Linked DNA regions of Homo sapiens. The protein of the gene in region 7 purifies or fractionates together with the protein of the main gene of each other region. This does not show direct contact. Each region holds a gene or a part of one and is shown on either strand. Other genes may lie near its edges. The genes, in order: AP1G1, TNRC6B, AP2A2, REPS1, PIK3C2A, TNRC6A and PRR12.

Evidence for each region.
Region 1: the proteins of PRR12 (region 7) and AP1G1 purify together in Homo sapiens (affinity purification with mass spectrometry, with the first as the bait; one large-scale study listed by BioGRID). This does not show direct contact.
Region 2: the proteins of PRR12 (region 7) and TNRC6B purify together in Homo sapiens (affinity purification with mass spectrometry, with the first as the bait; one large-scale study listed by BioGRID). This does not show direct contact.
Region 3: the proteins of PRR12 (region 7) and AP2A2 purify together in Homo sapiens (affinity purification with mass spectrometry, with the first as the bait; one large-scale study listed by BioGRID). This does not show direct contact.
Region 4: the proteins of PRR12 (region 7) and REPS1 purify together in Homo sapiens (affinity purification with mass spectrometry, with the first as the bait; one large-scale study listed by BioGRID). This does not show direct contact.
Region 5: the proteins of PRR12 (region 7) and PIK3C2A purify together in Homo sapiens (affinity purification with mass spectrometry, with the first as the bait; one large-scale study listed by BioGRID). This does not show direct contact.
Region 6: the proteins of PRR12 (region 7) and TNRC6A purify together in Homo sapiens (affinity purification with mass spectrometry, with the first as the bait; one large-scale study listed by BioGRID). This does not show direct contact.

Annotation. Positions count from the first base shown.
Region 1 is NC_000016.10:71,732,036-71,736,487, reverse strand, and holds part of AP1G1 (AP-1 complex subunit gamma-1), read left to right. Parts: intron 1-1,780; coding exon 1,781-1,879; intron 1,880-3,328; coding exon 3,329-3,430; 3' UTR 3,431-4,452. UniProt on the Homo sapiens protein: Subunit of clathrin-associated adaptor protein complex 1 that plays a role in protein sorting in the late-Golgi/trans-Golgi network (TGN) and/or endosomes.
Region 2 is NC_000022.11:40,267,945-40,272,396, forward strand, and holds part of TNRC6B (trinucleotide repeat-containing gene 6B protein), read left to right. Parts: intron 1-2,177; coding exon 2,178-2,336; intron 2,337-4,452.
Region 3 is NC_000011.10:984,171-988,622, reverse strand, and holds part of AP2A2 (AP-2 complex subunit alpha-2), read right to left. Parts: intron 3,979-4,452; coding exon 3,870-3,978; intron 3,192-3,869; coding exon of another isoform or gene 3,189-3,191; coding exon 3,041-3,188; intron 1,839-3,040; coding exon 1,670-1,838; intron 72-1,669; coding exon 1-71. UniProt on the Homo sapiens protein: Component of the adaptor protein complex 2 (AP-2). Adaptor protein complexes function in protein transport via transport vesicles in different membrane traffic pathways.
Region 4 is NC_000006.12:138,907,711-138,912,162, reverse strand, and holds part of REPS1 (ralBP1-associated Eps domain-containing protein 1), read left to right. Parts: intron 1-791; coding exon 792-887; intron 888-3,346; coding exon 3,347-3,495; intron 3,496-4,452. UniProt on the Homo sapiens protein: May coordinate the cellular actions of activated EGF receptors and Ral-GTPases.
Region 5 is NC_000011.10:17,089,063-17,093,470, forward strand, and holds part of PIK3C2A (phosphatidylinositol 4-phosphate 3-kinase C2 domain-containing subunit alpha), read right to left. Parts: intron 3,215-4,408; coding exon 3,097-3,214; intron 3,007-3,096; coding exon 2,934-3,006; intron 2,595-2,933; coding exon 2,485-2,594; intron 2,398-2,484; coding exon 2,272-2,397; intron 859-2,271; coding exon 676-858; 3' UTR 1-675.
Region 6 is NC_000016.10:24,805,901-24,810,352, reverse strand, and holds part of TNRC6A (trinucleotide repeat-containing gene 6A protein), read right to left. Parts: intron 4,148-4,452; coding exon 4,070-4,147; intron 3,780-4,069; coding exon 3,569-3,779; intron 1,004-3,568; coding exon 872-1,003; intron 1-871.
Region 7 is NC_000019.10:49,600,610-49,605,061, reverse strand, and holds part of PRR12 (proline-rich protein 12), read right to left. Parts: intron 3,572-4,452; coding exon 3,144-3,571; intron 1-3,143.

The DNA.
Region 1 (4,452 bases), on a different chromosome or scaffold from region 7:
AATGGCATGAACCTGGGAGATGGAGCTTGCAGTGAGCCGAGATCGCACCACTGCACTCCAGCCTGGGCGACAGAGCGAGACTCCATCTAAAAAAAAAAAAAAAGTCATATTTTATAGGTTCTACTATGTACTAATTTCGTGTTTTAATGTTTCTAAAATTAGGATACATTTAAAAATTGGTATCTTGTCATAATTCAGTGGGCAGCATGTTTTCTATCTCAGTGGTACATAAAATAATGGTGTGAATTACGATTGGTATCTTACATTTAATGAAATATGGTAGTAATGAATAATACTTTAGCTTACATAATTTTAATGTGGCAGAATTATGAATAAGACCATATATATATATATATATATATATATATATTTTTTTTTTTTTTTTTTTTGAGATGGAGTCTCACTCTGTCACCCAGGCAACCTCTGCCTCCTGGGTTCAAGCAAATCTCTTGCCTCAGCCTCCTGAGTAGCTGGGATTACAGGCATGCGCCACCATACCCAGCTAATTTTTGTATTTTTAGTAGAGATGGGGTTTTGCCATGTTGACCAGACTAATCTAGATCTCCTGACCTCAGGTGATCTGCCCGCCTTGGCCTCCCAAAGTGCTGGGAATACCGTGCCCAGCCCCCAGTGTAATATATCTGTACATTGAGAGTGAATCTTCACTCTTGCAACTTTTGGCCCTAGAGAAGACTAGTGTCTCTCTCTCTCAAATATTTTAGAAGTTTAATCTACTTTTAGGAAAGATTTTCAAATGCTAGTTCATACAATAGCTACGTAGTACAGTATGGTTTACCTAGCTTGCCCTATATAGCACTTTTTTTTTTTTTTTGAGACGGAGTCTTGCTCTGTTGCCCAGGCTGGAGTGCAGTGGCACAGTCTCGGCTCACCACAACCTCCTGGGTTCAAGCGATTCTCCTGCCTCAGCCTCCCGAGTAGCTGGGACTACAGGCATGTGCCACCATGCCCAGCTAATTTTTGTATTTTTAGTAGAGACGGGGTTTCACTGTGTTGGCCAGGCTGGTCTCGAACTCCTGACCTCGTGATCCGCTCGCCTTGACCTCCCAAAGTGCTGGGATTACAGGCTTGAGCCACCACACCCAGCCAGCACTTTCAACTCTTATTTCTATAAGCAAGCAAATAAACCCCACCAGCATTCAACAAATTAATACTGTTTGGCTTATCTAGGTCTTTTGCTGTATAGGCTGGTTCTGCAAGTCTTTCCGTTCCTTCTGTCATGTGGAGAGGAGGCTCTGACACATTATAGATTATGCAGGCTTTAAAAAACAAAAGTTCAAGTCTCTGCATCCCAGTTATCCAATCACACAAAAGCCTAAAAGCTTATAGTTGGTGACCAGTATGTTGGTTTGCTATTTTTGGGAAGCTTTTCTTTTCATTTCTTTCTGGCTGTTTTTTAAGCCAAAAGCACCGATATTTTACTTGCATAGTTGATCAGTTACCATTAAGTGAAGTTGCCAGAAGAAGAATTGGTCAGCTTTTGAAAAGAGGTAGGCTAGAATTCCTTCTGCCAGAAAGGAGAATGTGGTTTATTACTAGTTGTCATGATCAAAGAACCGAACAGTGGATTTTTACAAATACCACAGGGAGTCAACTCACGTGCTGTGAATTCCTGATATCTAGAAAACAAGTAGTAGGCAAAACTTAGTAGTAGTGAAATCTGTTGCTTGACCCATCATCTGGGTGTCTAAATGGTTTTTGGTATCTCTGACCTAGCGTTGTGTAATTCTTTTTCTGAAGAGTGCCCTTTGTTCCCCCCTAGACATTCCAGCTGCAGCTCTTGTCTCCTAGCAGCAGCATTGTCCCAGCATTTAACACGGGGACCATCACACAAGTCATTAAAGTTCTGAACCCTCAGAAGGTGAGTAGCACATTTGTAGCCAATATCTGAGCCGAAGTGTAAGCATATTTCCCGAAATAAAATTCTGCTTTGTTTCTTTAGGTTTTTCTGACTCATAGTTAGAGAAGAGATCAATGAAAATGCCTGGTCTAACTTCCTTGCTCTTTTGTAAATAACAAATGGAACCCAGAGACATCAGGTGGCTTAGTGGCATCTTATTAAAATGCAACTTCAAAAAAAGCTAGATTAAAGGTCTGGTTTTTGGGGGTAGGGGAGAAGCTTAGACATTTTAATTTATACACAAGTTGAAATCTGAGGTAAGAGCATTTGTTGAAACCAAATACCTACATTTACTGCTACAGTTATTAAGTATGAATAGAAAAATAGAGGCATTTTAAATGAAGCAGCCAAATGAAAAATAGCTTTAGAAACTGAAATTAAGCAATATTTTTATTATCTCTTCTCAAAGAAATAAGCTCACCTTAATAGTAATCAGTTGGTTTTCAGTTTTTGAAAATGGTTCAGAGAATTTCTTTAATAGAGCTCTACTAGTTGCTCATAAGTAACAGTATACTTTCTTTCTCTTGTAACACTTGCCTTTCCTCTGCTATTCACTATATTTTGAGCATCGGCCTCTATAGTACAAGCACAAACTCCTTTGACCATCTGATACAGAGAGTAAAAAATGTCTTAGTGCATTTGTATTTGAAATCTGCCATACAAAAAGTGTCTAATTGAGTTCTCTTAAAACTACTGCTGTTACCTGTGAGTTAAGTCATTTTTTAAAATTTTATGCTTTAGGAACAAAAGGTCATGTTCACATTTACTGTAGGTTTTTCAGATAAAGCAACAGTGTATCTGAATGGAGAGCGTACGATGAGTATATGTTCACCTCATTTTTTAAGAGACTTGGATACAAGGTTTGAATCTTTTTGAAAAGGACTCAGCAAAATGTTACTAGGAGAATGCTCCATGGTGGCTCACGCCTGTAATGCCAGCATTTTAGGAGGCTGAGGTGGGTGTATTATCTGAGGTCAGGAGTTGAAGACCAGCCTGGCCAACATGGTGAAACCCCGTCTCTACTAAAAATAAAAATATTAGTCTGGTGTGGCGGTGAGCCAAGATTGTGCCACTGCACTCCAGCCTGGGCAATAAGAACAAAACCCTGTTTCAAAAGAAAAGAAAAGAAAAAATGCTCCCAAGGAGTTCTGTCCTTTTAATGCAGTTCAAGGATTAAAGCTAACCGTGTATTCTGCAGATGCGCTTTCTCAACTTGGTGGCATGACATTGTTAGCTTCTTGGCTCAAGCCTAGAGTACTGGGTGTTTTTTGTTGTTGTTTACCTGTCATTCTTAACAGACAGCTTTGCTTTAAGTTTTGACCTCTAAGATTAAAAGTCTATTTGTGGACCGGACAGATTCTGGAGATTTCATTTCAGTATATAATTTGCACTTCTCTTTTCCTCTTATAGCAACAGCTGCGAATGCGGATCAAGCTTACATATAATCACAAGGGCTCAGCAATGCAAGATCTAGCAGAGGTGAACAACTTTCCCCCTCAGTCCTGGCAATGAGGGTTTGGCACCATTCTCATTCTTTATCCCACTCAATCAAAGGAACTCTGGGAAGGAGGTTGTGATTGCTGGCAAGTCCCCCCCAACTGTACCACGGGCATGAGGAGCTGAAGAGAACTGCTGAGGAGGATTTTCCTAAAGTTACTGCTGACCTTGAAGCATTGTTAAAGACTAATGTCCTCTCCTCCACTGTTGAGGCTGGCTGCTTCTGGAGGCTACTTTGCACTCTTCCTCTTCTCCTTTTTCCGCACTTCTCCACCCCTCCCACATTTACAGCCAGAATCAACATTCCCTGGGCCCCTGAGGAAATAAGCAGCTGGTCTGGAGGAGAGGACTGCAATCCATGGCGAAAAAACACTCACTTTGTCTCTGCAGCAAAGAGTTGCCCCTTCTTTCTACTGTTGTTTCTCTGTGGACTGGGCAAGGTGGGGTATTTATTCCTCACTAGCTGGGTTACCATCTTCAGGCACTTTTAACATCTGGCATTCGGAATGGAAATGTAATAATGGACATTAGGGAGCCCTGCCTTTTTCTACTGGTTCCCCCAATGTTTGAAAGAGGCATTAGGCTCCTGGTAGCCTTTTCTGTGCATTGCTGTATACACACAGACACACACATGTATGTTTGTTACCAAGAACTGGTCAGACCTTGCGAGTTTATTTGTAAACACTGGACAGATGGAGTTAAAAAGAGCTTTTGTTGAGATTTGGCATGAAGGATATGGTGCTCTATTTGTAATAGAAACTTCCAAGGCTCTTCCAGCTCCCCTTTCTCGCCATTCTTTAGCTGTAGTCATGAATAGTCTCCATGATTTTCAAAATTGATTCCCTTTAAAGTGCAAAATGGTCACCTTCTAAAAGATATATTCATAGTTATTAATGACCCTATTCCCACCACAAATTTTAAAGTGCTCCTAAGCCCATAACTTGCCTGTTTGAACTATGGTAATGGGTGGAAGAGGAGTTCACCAGTTTCAAAGATCAGACTCTGTATCAAAAGTACCTTTGCCCTTAGGAAGAGTG
Region 2 (4,452 bases), on a different chromosome or scaffold from region 7:
AACATCATACCTGGTAAAAGTAGCAATGGTAATGCCATTCTTAGTTTGTCATTGTCAACTTGAATGTCCCTATAGAGCATATAGTTCAACAAATTAAGGGGGATGCACCTTTCAGTCTTTTTTTAGTTAAAATTAATATTAAGAACCAGTTTTCTTTTTTTGAGACAGAGTCTCACTCTGTTGCCCAGGCTGGAGTGCAGTGGCACGATCTCGGCTCGCTATAACCTCCGTGCCAAGTTCAAGTGATTCTCTTGCCTCAGCCTCCTGAGTAGTTGGGATTACAGGCACCCACTGCCATGCCCAGCTAATGTTTGTATTTTTAGTAGAGACAGGATTTCACCATGTTGGCCAGGGTGGTCTCAGACTCCTGACCTCAGGTGATCCACCCGCCTCAGTCTACCAAAGTGCTGGGATTACAGGCATGAGCCACTGTGCCCAGCCAAGAATCAGTTTTCTCCGAGTACACCTCTAGTGTTCAGCTAATCCATTTGTGGCCTCTTAGAAAAATGATTACTTTTAACTCATTCTTTTTTCAAGTATTGAAAAGAATGAGGAAGGAAATGAAGATTTCTCACTGGCTCCCCATGCAGAATAAAACCTGCTAAAATTTTAAAAAGCTACATCCACATAGCAAAAACCTTCAAACTGTGTGGAAAAGCAAAAGATAGTCAATAAAATAATCTTTGGCCAGGCGCGGTGGCTCACGCCTGTAATCCCAGCACTTTGGGAGGCCGAGGCGGACAGATCATGAGGTCAGGAGATCGAGACCATCTTGGCTAACACGGTGAAACCCCGCCTCTACTAAAAAATCGAAAAAATTAGCCAGGCGTGGTGGCGGGCACCTGTAGTCCCAGCTACTCGGGAGGCTGAGGCAGGAGAATGGGGTGAACCCAGGAGATGGAGCTTGCAAGTGAGCTGAGATCACGCCACTGCACTCCAGCCTGGGCGACAGAGCAAGACTCCGTCTCAAAAAATAATAATAATAATAATAATAATAATAATCTTAACCCCTAGGGTCTCTTCCCAAAGGTAATCTCTTAGAAGTTTGTGTCCCATTCAAAAATTTTACAGAGAAGGGATTGTACTTCGTATACTGTTCTTCACCTTGCTTTTCTCATTATACTTATAGCTTCCAATTTTAGCACATAGTCTGCTGCTTAATTGCTTCATATACAGTATTTCTTTTTTTTTTTTTTTTTTTTTTTTTTTGAGAGGGAGTCTCACTGTCTCCCAGGCTGGAGTGCAGTGGCGCAATCTTGGCTCACTGCAACCTCCACCTCCCGGGTTCAAGTGAGCCTCCTTCTCAGCCTCCCGAATAGCTGGGATTACAGGCATGCGTCGTCACGCCCAGCTAATTTTTGTATTTTTTGCTGGAGATGGGGTTTTGCCATGTGGGTCTGGCTAGTCTTGAACTCCTGACCTCAGGAGATCCACCCGCCTTGGCTCCTAAAGTGCTGGGATAACAGGCGTGAGCCATTGTGCCTGGCCTTTACACAGTACTTCTTTTATGGGTGACCCACAATTGGTCTAACCAGTCCCCTTGTGGTGGATATTTAGGTTGTTTCCAAATTTTTTCTATCAGTGATGCGGTGAGTATTGTTATACATGTAATTTCACCTATTTTTACAAGTATATTTATGGTATAATTTTCTGGCAGCCTGGGCATGATGGCTCATGCCTGTAATCCCAGCACTTTGGGAGGCTGAGCCAGGCAGATCACAAGGTCAGGAGTTTGAAGCCAGCCTGGCCAATGTGGTGAAACCCTGTCTCTACTTAAAAAAAAAAATACAAAAGTTAGCTGGGTATGGTGGCACACGCCTGTAATCTCAGCTGCTCGGGAGGCTGAGGCAGGAGAATCGCTTGAACCTGGGAGGTGGAGGTTGCCATGAGCCAAGACCACGGCATTGCACTCCAGCCTTGGGGATGGAGCAAGACTCTGTCTCAAAAAAAAAAAAAAAAAAAAAATTCCTGGCAGTTGAGTTACTGGGTGAAAAGTTTAATGTGCATCGGATTTTTTAAAAAGTAGCATTGCCAAATACCCCTCACATGAAAGTTGAATCTATTTACATTTCTACCAACAGAATATAGGCATGCCTGTTCCTTCCACCTTCACCCCACTGGATATTATGGCATTTCATTTAACAAATGATTCTTAGAGACATTTCCTTTCTTTATAGTCTGGAGCAAAAGCACACCACCTGCTCCAGATAATGGTACTTCCGCTTGGGGTGAGCCAAATGAAAGCAGTCCTGGGTGGGGCGAGATGGATGATACAGGAGCATCGACCACAGGCTGGGGGAACACGCCCGCCAACGCTCCCAATGCCATGAAGCCTAGTAAGTGTGAAGCTTTTCATTTTTGAGGGATCCTTTTTTTTTTTTTTTTTTAATTGAGACGGAGTTTCACTCTTGTCCACCCAGGCTGGAGTGCAGTGGTGCAATTTCGGCTCACTGCAACCTCTGCTTTCCAGCTTCAAGCGATTCTCCTGCCTCAGCCTCCCGAGTAGCTGGGATTACAGGCGCCCGCCACCACGCCCGGCTAATTTTTGTATTTTTATTAGAGATGGGGTTTCTCCATGTTGGTCAGGCTGGTCTTGAACTCCTGTCCTTGTGATCCACCCGCCTTGGCCTCCCAAAGTCCTGGGACTACAGGCGTGAGCCACCGTGCCCGGCCGGGATTCTTTGTTAAATGTTTGTCAAATGTCAGATTTGAGAATCTGACATTTTGGTGAGGGCTGTTTAGTTTTAAGCTGTTGATTCAATGAGATTCAGGACCTTGAGTGTTAAATAATTAGTTAATAGCAAACGGTTGTGGCTTGGCTTGGCGTTTCTTAAAATGTTTAAGGTGAATTAAAAATCATAAGTTAATTTTGTTTTAAATTTAGTATCTGGACAGAATTATAATTTTGATGTGATGCTCTTTTAGCCCAGTGACTATGTGCTCACCATATCTAGCTTGCATTTCTACTTGTTAGTATAATTTAAAACAAGAGTTCCTGGCTTTTAATGTGGAACACGATCTGTGCTGCCCAGTGACTTCATCCTTCTGCACCTTCCTTTGCCGTTGTCTCTCTTCCACATAAGAGCATTTCAGATTTTTTAAACCTGGCATAAATTTCACTTCAATTTTTTAAATGAAGAACGTCACACTTATTCAGAATCATTGAAAATCTAAAATCTAAGCTGTACTTGATCCAGCTGGTGATGTGTGGTCACAGTAATGAGCAGAACTCTGTGGACTGAGGCTATGGAATGTCTCATTGACTGTTGCTAAATTCAGGTGCCTGTTTACACTTACTTTTGTAACTTTCTTTAAAATGTTCCAACATCTCTTTTCTACCATATAGAAGCAGATTTAAGGGATTATCTTTTGATTAAATAATGAACATTTCTGGAATGACCAAAATTCAAACAAGAAGATAAATTCTGTTAAGTTTATCACATTATATTCAGTACTCTTACAGTGCCACATAAGGGAATGTGATATTAGCTCTATTCTGGAAATTCACATGTGTGTATATGTAGTAATTTGACTACATTTTAAAAATCATGAATCTCCTCGACCTCATTAAAATAGTTAGCTTTATGAAAATTTTGTTTTTATCATTATTTCTATTGTGAAATCAGTCGTATCATCATGGGAAATGTAATCTAGTAGACTTGAAATAGACCCAAAATGCTGCAAGAAGATGTTAATCAGACCCTGGGCACAAAGAGATCCTTTAGCAGTATATTCAGGATTTTCATGTGTCTTTCCCAACCTCAGGATCACCTCTCTTCTATCACAAAACCACTTTTCCTCAGATTCTAAAAATGTCTTCTACTCTTCAGGATCATCTGTAGTTATAGCACACATCCTTTCTGTGGGTAAGTTAAATGTGTAATGTGCGGAAGAAAGGGCTAAACCATCATAGTCTACCAGTTGATGGAGACAGTTACCCTGTGATCTTCTGTAGCCTGTCTTAAATTTGATGTTATGAATCCTATGATTAAAAATTAGACCTCTCTTATCTTTTCTGTAAGAAACATTTGTTAGAAGTTTAGCTTTATCTCTCTAAAAGAAAGGTTCACTTGCATGTCTTCATTTTTCTAAAGGGGTCAGTGTGTTATTTATATTGGGTTTTTAGCTCGTGTTGCTTGTCAGTGGATGCTATAAAGCCTATGCTTGTATAATATAAATCATAAATATGGTATTATATAAATATATAATCCTATATACAGAGGCAGCAGTCCTGGTTATCAGCAGCACTTCCAGCAGCAGGAAGAGGAGCATCCCAACCCTCCCCCTTGTGCACAGACAGCCCCTTCCTGTGGCTACAATGAACCCCACTGGGAGACTGTCAGATTCACCTGGGCCTTGCTAGGGGATGAGATGCTACAGTTAGAAGAAATTAATTGCCCTGTGCCTTATGTACTTGGCCCAAACCTACTTGTCTATCATAGGCCTGATCCT
Region 3 (4,452 bases), on a different chromosome or scaffold from region 7:
GCGTTGCTGCGGTCGCACATGGCGTAGAGGAGGTCCACGGCCCGCTGCCGCACGCTCACGTCCCGCTCAGTCTGGGGAACAAGGCACAGAGTAAGAGGTCGCAGGAGCAAGGCACAAGCTTGGGGACAGGCTGGGGACAGGCTCGGCACCCGCATCTCAACACCCACTCTGAGTTTCCCTCACATGCACATCCAGGTCCAGGGAGCCGACCTGCACTCGGGCCACGTGTGTCTGGACAGCCCGGAATAGAGTTCCGCCTGCTGGCCCGGCCCTCCCGCACAGGCCAGCTTCGCTAGGACCCAGCGCACTGCCTGGATTCTGCCCGCTCGTCCATGCCTCCCTTGCCCTCCACAAGGGCCAGCTTCGCTAGGACTGAGCGCACTGCCTGGTGCAGGCCATCAAGGACTCCCTTCCATGCAGCCAAAGACCCCACTGCCTCGGACACGGAGCTGCCCCAAGGCAGGTCCTCACGCCCCACCCCAGAGCCCGTGCTGATGGGCCCCCAGGAGGCTCTGCAGCACGAGAAAGCCCGAGCTCTGCTCCCAACAAAGGCAGGAGAGTGGGCACCACCAGCGCTAGCACTGGCCGTGTGCAAATGAGTGTCCAGCCCTTCTGACAATAGGGATTGACTAAAACAAACACCAAAACCAGGACCAAGAAGAATCCAGAATACCAAATGCCCACCACGAGCCCCTTGCACACCACCCGGAATATCTGTGAGCTGCACGCAGACGTGCGGGGGACTGGGAGCAGCCCTGCCACAGCCTGAGGCTGAGCCAGATGGGGGACATGCAGCTCCCCGCCTCCCACTCCCTAACGCATGTGCACCGGTGACTAGGGACTTGGTGGACACACCGCAGGGTCCCCTATGTGGAACGAACCCTCGGGGTCGCTCTGGAGACTCGCAAAGGCTGGCAATGGCCAACCTCAACTGGGCTCTTCCAACTCTGAAATTTTTTTTTTTTTTTGAGACGGAGTCTCGCTCTGTCGCCCACGCTGGAGTGCAGTGGCGCGATCTCGGCTCACTGCAAGCTCCGCCTCTTGGGTTCAAGCCATTCTTCTGCCTGAGCCTCCTGAGTAGCTGGGACTACAGGCACCGGCCGCCACCACGCCCGGCTAATTTTTTTTTGCATTTTTAGTAAAGACGGGGTTTCACCGTGTTAGCCGGGATGGTCTCGATCTCCTGACCTTGTGATCCACCCGCCTCGGCCTCCCAAAGTGCTGGGATTACAGGCGTCAGCCACCGCGCCCGGCCCCAACTCTGAAATTTTAATCCCCGAACAAAGTGAGTTTCCTTTGTAAAAGGGGGATTTTCTTGGAGATAAGGGAAAAAAATTTCATCTTTCTACCAAGAAGAACCATTTCTACTTGTCAGCACTATGCACGCGCAGGATGGCACACGGGGGCTGCCCCCAGCAGGGAAAGGGCTGCCAGAGACTCCTCTGCTCAGCCTAACCAGGACAGCAGGGCCAACCCGGCCATCTCCAGGCAGCATGGCCCTCAACAGTGGTGTGACCTCCCAAGAGTAGGTGACAGGCGGAGGCCAGCAGCACCAGCACCACCTCCATCTCTGCGGGGAGTCAGGAGGCACTGCGTACCCCCAGCCTTCACAGGAAGACCCACGGCACCTGCTCAGGGAGTGAGCAGAACCCAAGGACAGGGCACTCGCCTTCAGGGCGTTGATGACCGTCTCGATGTGCGTCTTGACAGCCTCATGGGAGAACTCAGAGCTGGCCAGCGTGCACATGCTCTCCAGGGCCAGGTAGCGCAGGTTGGTCTCGCGGTGCTGCAGAAACTGGCCCAACTGGTTGCAGGCACGGACGAGCAGGTTCGGCTCACTGTGTGGAGGGAGGGGAAGTGGGTGGGGTTTCCTCAGCAAGTGCAACACAAACTGGACAGAGTCTGCGTTCCCCGACGGGTCCAGATGGCAGACAGCAAAGTCACACGGCACTCACCGCCACCACACTGCTCAAGTGGGAACTCGGGGGCCTCCCCAGATGCAGATGACGCCCGACCCCCACCCCTGACATCCATTTTGTGTCCATCCTGTGCATCCCCACAGTGAGTCAGCAGCCCGTGTGTCCACTGGAGCCTTCCCAGCACCTCCTGAGCCTCAATCTGCATCAGGCCCGCGGGAGGCCGGTCAAGCTGTGACCGGCAATGGGGTCTCAGCCAGAGGCACCAGCCCAGGGCAGGGAGAAGGCCGAGAAGGCCGGGAGCGCGGCTGCTGCCCCACTGACTCTACTGTCTCCTCAGGATGTGGCTTCTCCTCACATAACAACAGAGCTTTCTCCAAAATGGGAAATTTCAGTTTTAATAACTCTCAGTTCTGAAGTGTGACTCTCAGACTGAGTTTTCATCATTTGTAAAAATGCTGTAGTAGCAAATGGGTGGTGTTCACAAGCTGTAGAGAGCGTCTGCCCACAGCCTGGCACGTGCCCTCATTATTGGGAGCCTGGTGAGAACTGCGATCTCATTCTCACAGGACCCTAAAGCATGGCCCCACACGCAAGACCCACGCCAGACCACATGTGGTGCGCCGCAACTGCTGAGCAGAGAAGGCGTGGGAGCAGAGGAGGCAGACCCTCCAGGCTGTGTGGAGCGACCGCCACCCTGCGCCTCTGCGCTTCGTGGATGGGCACAGACGTTTCCAGCACTGCCCTGCGACCCTGGACCCACCAAGTGCGGCTCCACATCCAGCAAAGCCACGGGACATGCGCGCACACCCCCCACCCCACCCGTCTCCTCTCTGTTCCACTACATGAGAAGCCAGTCAGGAGTGGGGATGCTCAGGGGAAGGAGGAAAAGGCCCTCGTGTGGGATGAGACCACAGTCACCAAAGCAATCCACGGTGAGCTCAGAGCAGGAGGGGCCGGGCTGCACAGAAAGAAAAAAAGCATCCGGCAGGGAGCACAGAGGCAGGACGAAGGGGAGGCCCATGGAGTGGACAAACCAGACATGATCCGCCCAGTCTCGTGCCAACGAGAAGGAACGTGTGTGTGTGCGCGAGACGAAGCCTCTCCACAGGCAGCCGACACACCTGTCATGGTGAATGATTAAGCTGATGGCCTCGAAGAGCACGGCATTCTTCGCGTTGGAGTGCTGGACCTTCTTCGACTTGGGCGGTTCTTGGGCTTTGTTCAGGATGGTCTCCAGGCACTCAGTCAGGCGGCCTCGCACTGCAGGGTCTTCTGGGCAAGACAGAACGGTGCTCACCAGTCTCCAGTGGCCCGCAGCCCACCCTGCCCCTCCCGGCTGCACCCATACATCATGAGAGCATTTTTAATATAGTTCATTCACATTTGTGTACCCAGCTGGAAGCATTTACAAAACTGAGACAGGCCGGGCACGGTGGCTCACTTCTGTAATCCCAGCACTTTGGGAGGCCGAGGCAGGCCAGTCACCTGAGGTCAGGAGTTCAAGAACAGACTGGCCAACATGGTGAAACCCCGTCTCTACAAAAACGCAAAAGTTAGCCGGGTATGATGGCAGGTGCCTGTAATCCCAGCTACTCAGGAAGATGAGGTGGGAGAATCGCTTGAACCCGGGAGGCAGAGGTTGCAGTGAGCTGAGGTCGCGTCACTGCACTCCAGCCTGGGCAACAAAGGGAGACTCCATCTCAAAAAGAAAACCTGCACAAATCTGATACTATAAAAGCACAAATAGACCCAAACACTAACAAAACTGTAGGCTCTGCAATAACTGCTCCACGAAAGCCAGCGCATACAGCAGCACTGGCAGAAAGGTCCATGAATCAAGAGACAGGGCTAGTAACACACTTCTTAAAATAACAAACAAACCACTTAAATCTGAGACAGGGAATCAGACTGGCACTGGTGCAGCTTCAGGAGCCGCGGCCTGCGCGTTACCTGGGGGTGGGTAGCACTGCAGCAGTCTCAGCAGTTTGACAGACAGCCAGGGAGCCGGGACAAAATAGTAAGTGTAATCCTGGAGATCTGTGGATGCAGACGTCACGATCTGTAAGACAGCACAGGCAATGAGACACGCTGCCGGACACGAGCCCCTACTGCGGGGACCCAAAGAAAAGCCATACTCACTCCTCGGGTCACGCCTGAGCTGGAAAAATGGTTTTGTTTCATGTGCCAAGAGTGTCTGACACTGCTTGGTACCCCCTGGGTTCGCCGTGAGAGGGCTGCACTGTCACTCGGCAACACGCTGCCGCAGCTGAGTGGCAGCCCTCGCTCGGTACAAGACACCATAGCACCTGGATTTGAAACTACAGTCTTTCCTTTGTGGACCGGCACGTGAATGAAATCAGAGAGAGAGCTTTAGCCTCCTCAGAAGGAAGAAGCACCCCCACCCCCAGAAGCCGGCATTCTGACCCTACCCCACAACCCCACAGGGCCCCCCGACCACAGGCCAACCCAGATGGTGAGCTCACGGAGGCAGGGAGACTGCCCACCTCACTCACATCCCATCTCTGTGTCCAAT
Region 4 (4,452 bases), on a different chromosome or scaffold from region 7:
AGTTGGAGAGACCAGAGGAATTCTGCAATCTCTTTCTTATAGGTCATAGCCATGGAAAATTTCCTACTAGCTCCCTTTTAAAACCTACAACTTTCTGCCGTGCCCATTAGGGGACTGGGCTGCATCTAGGAGGGTCAGAGTGGGCATGTAGAGGTGTGCACAGGGTACCGTACTCACTCCCCTGGGTGGATGCCTCCCTTCTCCCAACCACGAAGACTTCCCAGACTAACCACTTAGAGGTTCGGTGCAGTGGCTGCATCCTCACCCCGTCCTCCTCTCCCTCACACATTTATGACCTGCATCCTCGCCTGTCCTCCTCTCCCTCACACATCTATTACATAGCTGCATCCTCGTCCCCTCCTCCTCTCCCTCACACATCTACTACCTGCATCCTCACCCCATCCTCCTCTCCCTCACACATCTACTACCTGCATCCTTGCCCCGTCCTCCTCTCCCTCACACATCTATTACCTGCATCCTCGCCCCATCCTCCTCTCCCTCACACATCTGTTACCTGCATCCTCGCTCTGTCCTCCTCTCCCTCACACATCTGTTACATAGCTGCATCCTTGCCCTGTCCTCCTCTCCCTCACACATCTATTACCTGCTCTCCCATCTGCCTTTCAGTAGCAGAGAAGGCTCATTTAATAAAGTTCCTTCAAGTTTCTTATCATCATCTCAGTTTTCTTGTCAGAATATTTAACATTTTATTCTGATTTGGTACATATTCTATATTTATGCATAATTACATGTTATGTAGAATTAATAGTGATAAACATATTCATTTTTAGGCTGAAAAAGCTTCTGATCCTGCAAGTTCTCTTCGAGTTGCCAAAACAGATAGTAAAACTGAAGAAAAGACAGCTGCTAGTGCTCCTGCCAATGTGGTATGCAAAATGTCTTTTATAATAATAATTTTGTACATCATAAGTAATGTGAAATAATTTTTAGAAATAAGGTCAGCCAGAAATCATCTAACCCATTTCTCTGCCTTTAACTGTAGTATAGTCAGTCTAGCTCAGAACAAAGTCTGCCTATTTAATGGAGATGATATTCTGTAATCTATGTTAAGTATGTGTCACAGGTTCTCAAAATTTAAGTGGTTATTGCATTCTTCCCACTATATAAGGTAGAACTTCTTTATAGGTGAAATTCAGTTTCTTTTATTGTAGTCTTCAATATAATAAAGAAAAATTATCAGCCCTCTAAGGTTGTTATTATTCCCTGTTCTCTTAACTTGTTCTTTAACTGTTTTAGGTATAATTTTTTCCCCCAACATTTTATTATGAAAACGTTTAAGCATACAGAAAAATTGAAACAATTTTTCATTGTACATCAGTAAATTCACTACTTTATACCATTATTATTTTAGGATACTTGCTTTACTACATATCTCTCCATGCCATCTGTTCATCTGTCAATCCTTATATGTTTTATGTCTGTGTTAGTCCGTCTGCATTGCTATAAAGGAATATGTGAGACTGGGTAATCTGTAAAGAAAAGAGGTTATGCCGGACACAGTGGCTCACACCAGTAATCCCAGCACTTTGAGAGTCCAAGGCAGGCGGATCACTTGAACTCAGGAGTTTGAGACCAGCCTGGGCAATGTGGCGAAACCCCGTCTCTACAAAAAGTACAAATATTAGCCGTGTGTGGTGGTATGCGCCTATAGTCCCAGCTACTTGGCAGGCTGAAGTGGGGGGATCGCTTGAGCCTGGGAGGTGGAGGTTGCTGTGAGCTGAGATAGTGCCCTACACTCCACCCTGGGTGACAGAGTGAGACCCTGTCTCAAAAAAAGAAAAGAGGTTTATTTTGCCTCATGGTTCTGCATGCTGTACAGAAAGCATGGTACCAGCATCTGCTTCTTGTGAAGCCTCAGGAAACTTAGAATCATGGCAGAAGGCAAAGTGGGAGCCGGTGTGTCACATGGTGAGTGAGGGAGCAAGGAGAGATGCCAGGCTCTTTAAACAGCCAGCTCTCATGTGAACTCAAGAGTAAGAACTCATTCATTACTGTGAGAAGGGCACCAAGCCATTCACAAGGGATCTATCTCCATGACCCAAACACCTCCCACTAGGCCCACCTCCAACATTAGAGGTCACATTTCACCATGAGATTTGGAGGGGACAAATATCTAAACTATATCAGTGTACTTTAGATTGCAAGTATCAGCACACTTTCCCTTTGAGGGAATAATTTTGGTAACTTTTTTTTTCTGTTATCTAGACATTCCCAATAGTTATAAAAACAGCATGTGTTTCTGAAGTGCTTAAATTCTACTTTCTGGACACTGTGTGTGTATTAGTCTGTTTTCACACTGCTATAAAGATACCACCTGAGACGGTAATTTATAAACAAAAGAGATTTAATTGACTCACAGCTCTGCATGGCTGGGGAGGCCTCAGGAAATTTACATTTATGGCGGAAGGCAAAGGGGAAGCAGGTGGCAGGATAGAAAAAGAGTGAGGAAGTGCCTCACTGTAAAACCATTAGGTCTTGTGAGAACTCCCTCACTCTCATAAGAACAGCATGGGGGACCACCCCCATGACCCAGTCACCTCCCACCAGGCCCCTCGCTTGACACATGGGGATTACAATTTGAAGTGAGATCTGGGGACACCGAGCCAAACCATATCACTATGTTTTATTACATTAGTAGTCCTGTGAGTTTTTAAGTAATGAACTTTATTTTTGTCAACTCACAGTAACAAATTAAAAATATCACTTAACTAAAGAGATAGCAGTTGACTATTGTTTTTATTTATTTACAGGTAAATCAAGTTATGGTAAATGCCAAAATGCTGTTTTTTATTCTGCCAAGGGCAGATTCATAATCACCGACAAACTGTCAACTCATTTTCAGAAGTTATAATTACTGTGCATATTAATAATGATGTTTTTGGTTTTTTAAAGAGTTGCCTAGCTTTCCATTACTTTATAATGTTATTTTATTCACTAAGATGAATGTTAGTATTTTTGAGTAAGAAATCCTATGGTGATAATGCATAGATATTTCTGGAGACTGCCTTTGTTTATTGTTGAACAGGTATATATTGATTCTGTATCATATTTATGTTAAAACTGTGAATATTACAGTCTTGCATCAGTATGTTGCTCTAAAAATACTTATATTGCAGGTACATTCATGATTGTGGTGTCAACTAGAAACATCTTTTCTCACTGTAATTTAAGTTAGCTCTTGCCACAAATATATAGATTTAAAGTAGGACAAGTAACTTTCAATTTTCCAAGAGCAAATGGCTTAAAGAAAGCAAATGGTGTTGCAAAGTGCTAACTATGAATGTCTTCAAAAATGCTTATTATTAATGGAATTCTTGTCTTAAAGAGCAAAGGCACAACACCACTTGCTCCACCACCTAAACCTGTTCGAAGAAGATTAAAATCAGAAGATGAATTAAGGCCAGAAGTTGATGAACATACACAAAAGACGGGTGTCTTAGCTGCTGTTCTTGCATCACAACCTTCTATTCCCAGGTAATCAAAGCTATTCCTAGACACATTTAATTACTAGGAAGAAAAAGCACGACAATTAAAAGTAATCAAACTGGCCCAGGCGTGGTGGCTCACACCTGTAATCCCAGCATTTTGGGAGGCTGAGCTGGGCAGATCATTTGTGGTCAGGAGTTAGACCAGCCTGACCAACATGGTGAAACCCCATCTCTGCTAAAAATACAAAAAAATTAGCCGGGTGTGGTGGTACACACCTGTAGTCCCAGCTACTCGGGAAGCTGAGGTAGGAGAATTGCTTGAACCCAGGAGGCGGAGGTTGCAGTGAGCCGAGGTGGCACCACTGCACTCCAGCCTGGGCAACAGAGCAAGACTTCATCTCACAAATAATAATAATAACAATAATCAGACTGAAGTAAATTATGGTCAGACTAGTTCTTTAATTGAGCAGAGCCTCCTCATGTACGGGTAGGTATTCTTCCCATGTTTCCCCCTTTATTAAGTTGAATTCAATGCCATTTTAACACCCTGTTTTCAAACCCCGTAGCAGTACATTTTTTAAACTTGATAGTTTATAGTAAAACTGGTATTTTAATTATGGTGTTCTAGACCAGGAATCAGCAGATTAAGTCTTAATGGGCCAAATTCAGCCTATGGCCTGTTTTTGTATAGCCCATGAGCTAAGAATGACTTTTTCTTTTTTGTAGAAGAGAGAAGAAAAAATAGAAGAGAAAAGAAAACAAAAAACTAGAATATGAGACAGAAACTCTTTGGCCCACAAAGCCTGAAATTATTTACTATCTGGTTTTTTACAGAAAAGGTTTGCCAGTACCTACTTTAGACTCTTTTACTTAAATTCAGGTGATTCTACAGAAGAAGAATTTTTTTAATAATTTCTTTTTTTTTTTTTAACCTTTCCTATAGTGCTGAAGCTTATATACTACTGCAACTGAGCAAGTGAGGTTGAGCTGTGCTAGTAAGGAA
Region 5 (4,408 bases), on a different chromosome or scaffold from region 7:
TTATCAAATCAGGAAAAAAATCAGAAACGAAGTGCCAGGGAAGCATATAAAGTTAAGGCACCATTATTTACAACATCAGTGATTGGCACTTATTCTGAAAAAGGCTTTAAAGACATGAATAAAAAGCAGTATTACGTTTTTCCCTACTTCTATAAACTACTTAGTAGTTCTTAACTTAGCTATCTATTATTTGTGCTTTGTTTTTCAGCTCCATGAATAGCAGCTGGATTTTACGGTAACATCCTGCATTTTTCCTTTACTTTGGTGTTTGTGAACATTACACAGTGGTAAAGGCTATAAAAGGTGCATAACAGGAAAACACATATGCTTTGCCTCCTTATAGAAAACAATGCAAAATAGGTGGCTGAACTGACATAGTACTGTCTCAAAGTCTTTTTCAGGAATTAGTATATATTAAGTTTAGGGTTTGTAGCATTCTACATAATGACTTTAAAACAGCAATGGCTTCCAAAAATTCAAAAAGGTTAGTTATGTGACTGTTGGTCCAACAGATGTGTTGAAATGCAGCAAGTATATTTAACTTTATAAGTTCTGTCCAAGTATAAAAATACTATACAAAATTAACAAGTGTGTGTGTGTGTGTCTGTGTGTGTGTGCATGTATGCATGCACGTTTATAACTGTTCATGCTTCCAAAGCTCAAACATTCACTAGTTTACAAGTATGTTGCCGCAGTCAGCTGATACCATTTAACCGTCTCTTTGCTCAAGTTGAAATCTTTCAAAGGCAGGGTTACTCCACCCAAGAAAAAATTCTCCCGCAGAGATTCTGCACTGAGTACACTTAGTTGAAGTTCTCGCTGTCTTAGGGTTTCTTTGCTATATCCACTGTATACAAGCTACAACAAAGGAAAAAAGAACAGTAAATCACAAATTAAAGTTTGTTTGGTTTCTTGGAACATTTCAAGTGAAAACGTGAGAATATTAGCCAAAGAGTGACCACAATGAGTGACACTGATTATGACACATCCGGTAGGTTTTGTCTGAATACTTTAGAAGGACATTTTGTGTTTCAGGAGTCTTGGATTGTACTATCATTCCTGTGATGTCTGACATAGAGAGATACAAAGCAAGACTAATCATTAGCTAAAAAATAAAAACTAGAGGCCAGGCATGGTGGCTCACGCCTGTAATCCCAGCACTTTGGGAGGCTGAGGCGGGTAGATCACCTGAGGTTGGGAGTTTACAACTAGCCTGACCAACATGGAGAAACCTGTCTCTACTAAAAATACAAAATCAGCCAGGCGTGGTGGCACATGCCTGTAATCCCAGCTACTCAGGAGGCTGAGGCAGGAGAATCACTTGAACTCAGGAGGCGGAGGTTGCAGTGAGCCAACATGGCTCTATTGCACTCTAGCCTGGGTAACAACAGCGAAACTCTGCCTCTAAAAATAAATAAAATAATATAATAATAATAATCATCTAAGAGGTGGAGTGATCTAAGACAAACTGAATAGTCTGGAAGTAATTAAGCACAGACTAGACAACCACTTTTTGTGACTATTATAGAGGGGGGTTCACACACTGGAAACGTAGTTGAATTATGGCTCCTAAGGTCTATGAGGGCTCTATTTTATATCATTTTGTTAAATACTATTGGACTGTTATTGGTGTACACTGTATAACAAATAGTTCAGCAACTGATACCTAAAAACTTAAAATTTTTTTTTTTTTGGGACAGGGTCTCTCACTCTGTTGCCCAGTCTGGAGTGCAGTGGCATGATCATGACTCACTGTGGCCTTGACCTCCTGGGCTCAAGCAATCCTTTGACCTCAGCCTCCCGAGGAGCTGGGATTACAGGTGCGTGCCACCATGCCTAGCTAATTTTTTTCTTTTTTTTTTTTTGTAGAGATGGAATTTCATCATGTTGCCCAGGCTGGTCTCAAACTCCTGAGCTCAAGGGATGTATCCACCTCGGCCTCCCAAATTGCTAGGATTACAGGCATGAGCCACTGCGCCTGGCCTTAAAATGTTTTAAAATTTAAAATCTCAAAACAATGGACACAGAGAAGGGGACAACACACACTGGGGCCTGTTGGGGGATGGGATGGTGGGAGGGAGAGCATTAGGAAAAATAGCTAATGCATGCTGGGCTTAATACCTAGGTGATAGGTTGATAGGTATGCAGACCACAATGGTACGTTTAGCTATGTAACAAACTTGCACATCCTGCTTACGCACGTCAGAACTTAAAAATGAAAATTAAAAAAATAATAAACCAAGGAAACTTCTAGAAATGATTTTAACTTACCATTTCATTGAATGTCGGATTCCTCGTTTTTCGTGAAATTTTGGTTTTACGTTTGGATGTTTTGTGGTTATCTGGAAGTAGGTATGTTTTGACATATGGATTTGGGTCAGCTCCATCTTCAGTAACCTAAAAAGAAAAGCAGTCCCTTAATAGTAATGCTTCCTACCAAGGTAAGGGTTTCCTCTACAACCATCATTCTTTGTAATCACTCACAAGATCTTTGATATGCATCACCATGATGAAAAGAGTACCATTTCGGTAAGAGATGGATAATTTCACAGCTCCTCCTATTTGGCCTGGAGTAGGACTGAAGGAACCTGCATCTGAAAATACAAATATTTTCATCTTTATTTACTGGTTGTAGTGGTTCAAGCTGCAATAAAAGGATTTTGCTTTATTTTCAAGACTGTCACATGTGGTGCGGACAGAAGGGAGGGGAAAAAGGAGTAAACAACCTGATAGGTCATTGATTTATACTTCTTTAGTAATCACATCTATTAGGAAAGTTATATTTATTCAGAAATAGACTGGCTTAGAAAGAATACTCTCCTCCCATTCTCAGACTACAGCTAGTAAGCCTGCTGTCATTCTACCACATTCATCGAGAAGTTACAGACTTGCAGATCATGAGTTACCAATAAAGAGAAAAAAAATAATCTCACCTGCAGACCTAGCTATCCCTTCAGCTTTCTCATCACGAAGTAAAGGGTGGAAGAAAGTACAAACAAGATCACACTAAGAATAAAGAGAAAGCAATTCATTAGTTTAAATATTATGTAACACAAAAGGTATAAGATGTTATTACTTCTCATTTAGTAAGGTTACCTCTGCTACATCCGTTGAAGCATTCATCAAACTCTGTAAGTAACTGTTTAACTCAATTTTCCTTTTGGCTGCTACATCTTTTATGTGTGTTCTTCCTAGAACCATCCTATTAGGAAAGCTACAAAAGAAAAACAAAAACAAGTGGGATTTAAATAAGTACAATATTTCCTTAGAAATACACTTTTTCATATATACTTAAAGACAAAGTAGTCTTAATCCATTATAAAGTAATATTTTGTGGCCGGGCACGGTGGCTCATGGCCTTTGGGAGGCCAAGGCGGGTGGATCACTTGAGGTCAGGAGTTTGAAACCAGGTTGGCCAACATGATAAAACCCTGTCTCTACTAAAAATACAAAAATTAGCGTGCTGATGCCTATAATCAGATACCTATAATCCCAGCTACTCGGAAGGCTGAGGCAGAAAAATCACTTGAACCTGGGAAGCGGAAGTTGCAGTGAGCCGAGATCACTTACACTCCAGCCTGGGTGACAGAGCAAGTCTCCGTCTCAAAATAAAATAAGTAATTTTTTGTGATTTCTCTTCAAAGTATTGGAGATGACATCGTTCAGTCACCCATTATCCTTTTATGAGCCTTGGTTGAAAAGGTGTATGTGTTGATTTCCTATATTTATTATTAGCTTGGTGCAAAAGTAACTGTGGTTTTTGACATTAAAAGTAATGGCAAAAAACGCAATTACTTTTGTACCTACTTAATACTTATTTTCTAATATTTCTTCTCAAGTTTAATCACTCATAAATATTTTATCCAGATCTGATCCCTAAAAAATAAAATCACTACTCAATCAGCCATAAATATTACATATACCAGTAAAATCCACAAATAATAACATAAGGCCTAAGTAAGGTGCTGAAAGGATAATCTTAATTCCACTTATTTTGGTGGCAGTGGAAAAATGAAACTGTACACGGAAACAAACTCTAATACCCACTTCACCTCATCCTCACTTTTGAAATCTAGTCTGAAGAAAATATGAAAAAACTCGACACAGGAAATCTACTGGTCATTGAGCTACATTAAAACTGAAGACTCCCAAAGGGTATCAGATACAAAACTAAGATTTTGATTGACAGTCTCGATGATGTTTGCTTGTTATTTATTTTTTTGAGACGGAGTCTCGCTCTGTTGCCCAGGCTGGAGTGCAGTGGTGCCATCTCAGCTCACTGCAAGCTCCACCTTCTGGGTTCACGCCATTCTCCTGCCTCAGCCTCCCAAGTAGCTGGGACTACAGGCGCCTGCCACCATGCCCAGCTAATTTTTTGTATTTTTTAGAAGAGACGGTTCACCGTGTT
Region 6 (4,452 bases), on a different chromosome or scaffold from region 7:
AGCATGTATGTACATTGTGTCTATGTATTCCAGGTGCTAACATAGCCTTGGAAAGCAGAAGATACTCGATTAATATTTGCTGGGTGAATGGATAATACTAAATAAGATGAAAACGGCATTTCTAAAAAAAATTTAATTGCTGAAAAGACAATACTGTTAAATCCATATGACTTACACATAGCAATAAGCTATATAAAGAAATGTGTCCATATATAAGGAATTGATAGAAATAAAATTATGGGCCAGGTGCAGTAGTTCACACCTGTAATCGCAGCACTTTGGGAGACCAAGGCAGATGGATCACCTGAGGTCAGGAGTTTGAGACCAGCCTGGCCAGCATGATGAAACCCTGTCTCTACTAAAAATACAAAAATTAGCCGGGCATGGTGGCTCAGGCCTGTAATCCCAGCTACTCAGGAGGCTGAGGTAGGAGAACTGCTTGAACCCGGGAGCAGAGTTTTCAGTGAGCTGAGATCATGCCAATGCATTCCAGCCTGGGTGACGGAATGGGACCCTGGTAGAAGTTTTAAATGTCCTAAGAACATATCAAATTAAATCCAGTAAATGTTAATAAGTGTAATAATATAAGAATAAAATCACTTAGAAAAATGTAAAAAGCCAAAGAGAAAATAATTTTTAAACATGTATCATCTGATCTCTCCTTTATAAAACAGAGTAGAGGTAAATTCTGCTTTTCATCTGAAAGTCTCTTATTGTAACTAAGACTTAATAACAACTTTTTTTAAATGAGGAAAAGTTCTAAGATAATTTGGCTTTGAAAACACATTTAAAATAAAATAAAGGCCTAAATCTAGTATTCTGCAGGTGTGTGTGTTTTTTTTTTTTTTTTGGTAAGATGTATCTTTTGTACCATGTTTGCTGGAGTTTTGATCCAAAGATGTGTTCACAGAAATGCTGTCCACTGTCGTCCACTTCCTTAGTCTTGACTGTGGCTCTTTAATACTGTTCATATCCATATTTACATTCAAGTTTGAGTTCAAGCCTGAAAAATTAAAAAACAAAACAAAACCTTAGAAAATACAGCACATTTTCTTTCTAGTAGCACAACTTCTATTTCCTAGAAAAACATGTAACTAATGTTTTCAAACCACATAACTGTTAATACTATAATTTAGTTATACGTAGAAAATATTTCTCCATAAAATTTTGATGATTTATTTAAAACTCCTTGGCAAAATAAGAGGGAGAAAAGTTTTAAGGAAGCCAGATGTATAAGTTTACTTGGAATAAAATGTATCTGTTTAGCTATTTCCCAAGTGTACCTATGCATGAAGATCTGTGGTCACTTTCAGTTGCTATCTTTTGCTTGCAAATTCTAAAGTAAAAATGTCCTGTACTAGCAATTACACCTAGGCTGGGGACAGATATATCTTAAGGCACAATTTACTTGACCTTTGCTGATGAGGCCCCTCAGACTTGGATATTCTCTTGGAACAAGAATGGAAATTTCAACCTTAGATACAGTGGTCAGAAAACTATTAAGCTAGTTTTTCTTAAAAGAGTAATCTAGGGACTATTAATATTAGAATCACCTAAAACGCTTGTTTAAAAATGAAGACTTTCCAGTGGGAGCCAGAATCTTTGTTTCACAATTCCCAAGAGGTTCTTATTCTAAAGTTCCAAATTAAATTGTTTTAAATTCTCTGGTCTGATGAGTCCATGTGATGTTAAGGTCTGTCAAACCTGAAAACTTTAATAATACAAATTCTCTAATACCATGCGTATTTTTGCAGAGAGCAATTAAATTTGCTACTCTTGGACCCATCAATCGGATCAGGAGTTGACAATTTTTTTCTGCAGAGGTTCAGCCGGTATCTCAGGCTCTGTGGGCCACATGGTCCCGGTGTCTCCATGCAACTCTGCTGGTGCAGCACGAAAGCAGCCACAGACCCCAGGTTAGAGAAAATGTGGCTGTGTCCAACAAAACCTTACAACAGCAGGCAGTGGGCCAAATTTGGCCAACAGGCCATAGCCTGTTGCCGAACTTAGATAACTGTATTGGTATTTGCATGGGCTAAGCAGACTTTCTTAATCAAGAAGTATCCCTCACTGAGAAGCTGGCCAGGGCAGGAAATCCTATGCTTAGAACTTATGTGGCCAATTTATATGTCAAGTGTGCAGTCAAATAGGAAGAGCCAGCTCCCTTCACTGATGAGACAAAAACTTCTCCCTGTACTTGGGTATCATTCTTTTACTACTAACTGTTGTCTCTGACATCACCTGGCCACCACTAAATGGCTTCTTCAGTATTCACCCACAGTAGTAACTGACAAGGGAACTGTTTTTGGAAATGCAGAGATCACTAACAATCCTAAGGACTCAAAGTACAATTTATGTCCCAGGTGAGAGTCTGTGGTAATACCAGGCTGAGCCAAACCAGTTCAGTCACAGAGTGAGGCAGCAGCAGGGGCAACAGCATGCCCCAGCCTCTGCCCACAGCCCAGAACAACTAGTTAACTGATGGTCTTCAAACACTCTGGCTAACAACCAGCAAAGCTGGTTTACAAGAAACCACTGTATAGGAAAAGAGAGAGAAAAAAAGCAAAATAAACAGGGCATGAACAATCAATGGTTAAAATATAATCAAGGGCACAAGAAAAAAAGAGACCTAGGAAAGAAACAACATATAAGCTCAAAATCTCTACCCAGTGAATAAAAGCCTGGAGATAACAGAGAAAAAAGAGTGGGTGGGGGTGGGGAGTTGCATGTATAAGAAAGGCAATCTCCTTTCTTACCTCCATTTTTAAATTTATATCAGTAATCATTTATACATAGTTAGACAGTAGTTAAAACTTCAAGTTCTGAGAGCTAGCAAATGTGACTGTGACCATCCCCAGCTGTTTCACCAAAACAGCACTGCTCAAAAATTCTCTGGTGTACTGTTTCTAATAAGAACATCAGCCTTCCTTCCCACCCTTAATATCCTACTTAAGATTAAGACAGCTAGTCCTTTAAAAAGTGAAATGTTTCCTTTATTCTAATGCACTTTAAACGAGTGTGGAGTTTTTGAAATAGTGTGATTTTGAAGGCTGGGCATGGTGGCTCATGCCTGTAATCCCAACACTTTGGGAGGCCAAGGCAGGCAGATCACCTGAGGTCAGGAGTTCCAGACCCACCCGGCCAACATGGTGAAACCCCAAATCTATTAAAATACAAAGATTAGCTGGGCGTGGTGGTGCGCGCCTGTAATCCCAGCTACTCGGGAAGCTGAGGTGCGAGAATCGCTTGAACCCGGGAGGCAGAGGTTGCAGTGAGCCAAGATCTCACCACTGCACTCCACCCTGGGTGACAGAGCAAGACTCTGTCCTAAAAAAAAAAAAAAAGAAAAGGAAAGAAAAGAAAAATCGTGATTTTCTTGAGGAGAGAGACCTTCCCTGAATGTGGAGCAGGTTAAAACTAGGAGAGGGGATGGCAACTCTCTGAGAGGGAACAGCTAAGAGATCAATGTAGCTTTCATGAAGGAACAGAGCTGTAAGGGTACGTGTGAAGGAGGCACGCCTGTGATACCTAAGCATCAGTCCAATACTTGGGCCAAGGAGAAACCCACCTATAGGGAAGTTGCTGAAAGCATTTATTGGTGATGGCCCTTTTTGCAGCTCAGGTGTAGTGTGGGGCATGACATTGTCAAGGAAAGACTTCATGGCTGGCTGATGGAGTGGCTGCTGCTGAGATGGTGGAGTCTGCTGCTTCACCAACAGGTTTGGATCAAGTTGACGAGATTGTTGCATCATTTGCTGCTGCACACTAAGAGGTCGACCCTTAAAACAATGAAATGATTGGAAAAAATTACTGGGGGAAAACGTCTTTACAGAAAACTACATATTCCTCTCCATTTTTGAATTCACTTTCGTCTCAGCAGAAAGGTGAATAATCACTGTATAATGTTCACATAACTCATGGGCAACCAGCAGACTTAATGAAAAACATACTGCATTACATCTTAGTAAGATTGTTTTAAGAAAGACATTTCTGAATCTCTTGCTACAATGGAGATAAGCAGAGTTTATTAACACAAAGACAGCATTGCGAGTTGCAGGGCGGGCTCTACCTGCTGGTCTTGCTGCGGCCGGTTCCCAGAAGGCACGCTTCTCTGACTCTGCGCCCTTTGCTGCTGCGCTAACAATCGCTAGAGGAAAGATAGCGAAAAGGTTGTTACTATCACACCATTACAAAGTGTGTGCTTCCAAATGACGACAGCAGATGGACCTACAGAGGCACGACGTGATCTAGCCAATGCCAACATGTCTAGCATTATCTAGTACCATCTCTTCCTTGGACTCTCTGGTTTCTAGTCACTGCTGAAATTCAGTCTTTAGTTCAATCTAAACTTTCACTTCAACAGAGAAACTTTTCCTAATCATCCTACTAACACTAGCACCCTGGACTTGGCTGAGGTTTCCTCTCACAGCATTCTGCACTTCTTCAAGACAT
Region 7 (4,452 bases):
CTGGCCAACATGGTGAAACCCCATCTCTACTAAAAATACAAAATTTAGCCAACCATGGTGGGATCCTCTGTAGTCCCAGCTACTCGAGAGGCTGAGTTATGAGAATTGCTTGAACCAGGGAGGTAGAAGTTGCAGTGAGCTGAGATCACGTCACTGCATTCCAGCCTGGACAACAAGGGAGACCCTGTCTCAGAAAAAACGGGCATAGAAATCCCCAATCAGAAGGACTTTTTAACCTGTGTGAGCCTCAGTTTCCATCCCTGTAAAACGCTACTAGTAGTCTCTATAATCAAGTTTATTTTATATAAAAAGATAAAACTTGGAGATGGATGGTGGTGACGGTCATTTAACAATGTCAATATTCTTTTTTTCTTTATTTTTTTGAGACAGAGTTTTGTTCTTTTGGCCCAGGCTGGAGTGCAGTGGCGTGATGTTGGCTCTCTGCAACTTCCGCCTCCCAGGTTCAAGCAATTCTCCTGCCTCAACCTCCTGAGTAGCTGGGACTACAGGCGCCTGCCACCATGCCCGGCTAATTGTTGTATTTTTAGTAGAGATGGGCTTTCATCATGTTGGCCAGGCTGGTCTTGAACTCTTGACCTCAGGTGATCTGCCCGTCTTGGCCTCCCAAAGTGCTGCAATTACAGGTGTGAGCTACCGCACCTGGCCTACGATGTCAATATCCTTTTTTTTTTTTTTTTGAGACAGTCTCGCTCCCTTGTTTTTGGTAGATGTGAGGTCTTGCTATTTGCCTAGCTGGTCTCAAACTCCTGGCCTCAAGTGAGCCTCTCACCTCAGTCTCTCAAAGTTCTGGGATCACAGGTGTGAGCCACCACTCCCGGCCTGCTCTATTATTTACTTTTCCCACAATGAAATAGATTGAAATAACACAGGAAAAAATACATTTGAGTTTGCCTCAAAAAACACACTTAAGAAGAAAGTGTAAGGCCGGGCGCGGTGGTTCATGCCTGTAATCCCAGCACTTTGGGAGGCCGAGATGGGTGGATCACAAGGTAAGGAGTTCAAGAGCAGCCTGGCCAAGATGCTGAAACCCCTTCTCTACTAAAAATACAAAAATTAGCCAGGTGTGGTGGCACTTGCTGGTAATCCCAGCTACTCAGGAGGCTGAGGCAGGAGAATCGCTTGAACCCGGGCAGCAGAGGTTGCAGTAAGCCGAGATTGCGTCACTGCACTCCAGCCTGGGCGACTCCGTCTCAAAAAAAGAAAAGAAAAGAAAAGAAAAAAGTGTAATGATAGTTATTATCCTTATAATTAATAATTAATTCTTCCCATAATTTCTCCATGTCACATCGAAGATTAAATTAAAACAACATCCAGGACTAAATTATTATTATTATTATTTTTTCGAGATGGAGTCTTGCTCTGGTGCCCAGGTTGGAGTGCAGTGGCACAATCTCAGCTCACTGCAACCTCCCCCCTCCACCCCAGAGTTCAAGTGATCCTCCTTCCTCAGCCTCCCGAGTAGATGGGATCACAGGTGCGCCCTACCACGCCCAGTTAATTTTTTGTATTTTTAGTAAAGACGGGGTTTCACCATGTTGGCCAGGCTGGTCTCAAGCTCCTGACCTCAAGTGATCCACCTGCCTTGGCCTCCCGAAGTGCTGGGATTACAGGCGTGAACCGCCATGCCCCGCCAAGATTAAATGTCACACTGTACACGAAGGGCCAAACAATAATCCTGTATCATAATCAGTACAATCAATGACAATGATTGACATGGAGAATGGCCTTGGCGTCCATGCCACCATCAGGGTGAGAATGGGCTGACCTCCTGAGCACCTGCTCAGCCGCATGCCCTGTGCAGAGCACTCCATGGGCACCTGGTAACACCTACCCCTGTCAAGTGCCTTGCACATTAATCCTCTGATCCAACTCTATTTGTCCAGTGAACCCAGTACAGTAGAGGCCAGCAAACTTTATTCATGATGAGCCAGAGATATTTTTTGCCATTGAGGGCCAGCTAACTACCCAGCTCTCTGCCATATGGGAAAAACAGCCATAGACAACATGTAAATGAATGGGCATGGTTGTGTGCCAATAAAACTTTATTTGCAAAAACAAGCAGTGGGCTGGATTTGGCCTAGGGGCCATAGTTTTCAAGCTCCTGCGGTAGACAAACTGGAAGCAGTGAACAGGCTGTTGGTCTGCATTTACGTATTTAAGTATTTAAGGTAAATATTGAAGCTATGGCCAGCCAGGCACAGTGGCTCACACCTGTAATCCCAGCACTTTGGGAGGCCAAGGCAGGTGGGTCATCTGAGGTCAGGAGTTCGAGACCAGCCTGGCCAACACAGTGAAACCCCATTTCTACTAAAAACACAAAAATCAGCCGGGTGTGGTGGCCTGCGCCTGTAGTCCCAGATAGTTGGGAGGCCAAGTCAAGAGAATCGCTTGAACCTGGGAGGCAGAGGCTGCAGTGAGCCGAGATTGAGCCATCGCACTCCAGCCTGGACAAGAGCGAAACTCCATCTCAAAAAAACAAAAAGATATGGCCTGACACACAATAACCATTCCTAAATGATTCACTTTTTTTGTTTGTTTGAGAGAAAAGGTTTCATTATGTTGCCTAGGCTGGTCTCAAACTCCCAAAGTGCTGAGATTACAGGTGTAAGCTGCCGCGTCCGGCCCAATTCATGATTATATTTACAGGTTACATAAGTGTGTATCTGCAGGTAGTCTATGTCAATGACACATTTCCACCATTGTGCCATAAATGGCAAAGCAGCCCGCCTCTCTGGCTGGTTCCATTAAACTAGAAGCTCCCTAGGGCCAGAGCCTCATCTGCTTGTACAGTACTGGTCCTCTACCACCCACAGCAGGGTATCTGCATAAACATTAACAAGCGGTTCACCTTATATACAGGTAACGCACATATAGACACATACGCGTTAACAATCGCTTTACCTTATATACAGGTAATGCATGTACAGACACAAACGCAAATAACACCTCTGAGGCCCGCAGGTCCTCGACACCTCTATCAGCCCCATAGGACTGCAAATTCCAGGGCGGCCCGGCCACGACTGGATCTGCAGGTCTCAGCACAAGCCTGTCATCCAGCGGGCACTCAACAAACAGGTGACCAAACCCATCAGGCCCAGTTTCTGGAGAAGGCTGGGACTCACCTTGAGGGAAGGGATGTCCTCAGCACGGATGACGAACTCGTCCCGTTCCCGGAAGATGCCCTCTCCGCCACTCTCGCCGGCCTCCTCGTCCGTCTCCCCACACACTGCCGCCGTCTCCTGCTTTTTGGCCAGATGCAGGGGCCGGGTGTCCGGCAGCTCGGGGTCTTCGGGAGACGGGGCGGCGGGCTCCTCAGGAGGAGCAGCCAGTGGGGCAGCGGCTGGTGGGGGTGGTGGTGGAGGCGAGGGCATGGCTGGTGGAGGTGGCGGCGGCAGCGGCGGTGGCGGTGGTGAGCTGGGCGTGGGGGCCACCAGCGGGGGTGGCGAGGGCAGGGCTGGCTGTGGCGGCGGAGGGGGTGGCGGAGGCTGAGGCTGAGGAGTCGGGGCAGGAGGTGGAGTGGGTGGGGGTTTCTCCTCCAGCAGCGGGGGCTCTGGGGGAGACAGGGACATCAGGCCTGGATGTTATTCATCATTCCTGGCACCTTTCCTCTTGTCCTTTAAACACTGCTTTCTATACCAAAAGCCCCTCTGTAACTACCACTCAGCTCCCAGTGTCCCTTCTACCCTATCAGAGTCTCTCCAGAGACCTACTCTGGCTCCTGCGGCTGCAAAGGAGACCTGTCTCCTATCCCTAATCCCCTTCTCAGTCCTGGAATGTCTCTTTGTGGTCTTAAAGCCCTTGTCTGGTTCTTAACTCCTCTTCCTGAATGACCCTCCCAACTCCTAAATCATCACCTCCCTAACTCTACTTCCTCACCTCCTCTTCCTCCAAGGCCTCATCCTCCTCCCTCCAGGACCATCTTTGTCCTTTCCTTGGCCTGCTCACCAGTATGCAGACTGCTAACCTCTCCCCTGTCTGCCAGCTCCCTTCTTCAGGCTTTTTAAGAACCTCACAGAGGGCAGGCATGGTGGCTCATGCCTGTAATCCCAGCACTTTGGGAGGCTGAGGTGGGTGGATCACTTGAGGTCAGGAGTTCGAGACCAGTCTGGCCAACATGGTGAAACCCCGTCTCTACTAAAAATACAAAAATTAGCTGGGCATGGTGGTGCGCGCCTGTAGTCCCAGCTACTCGGGAGGCTGAGGCAGGAGAATCACTTGAACCTGGAAGGCAGAGGTTGCGGTGAGCGGAAGGCAGAGGTTGCAGTGAGCCAAGATCGCACCACTGCACTCCACACTCCAGCCTGGGTGACATAGAGAGACCCTGTCTCAAGAAAAAAAAAAAAGAACGTTATAGGGTCTTTTTGTTTTGTTTTTGGGGTTTTTTGTTTAAGACAGGGTCTTGCTCTGTCACCCAGGCTGGAGTACAGTGGC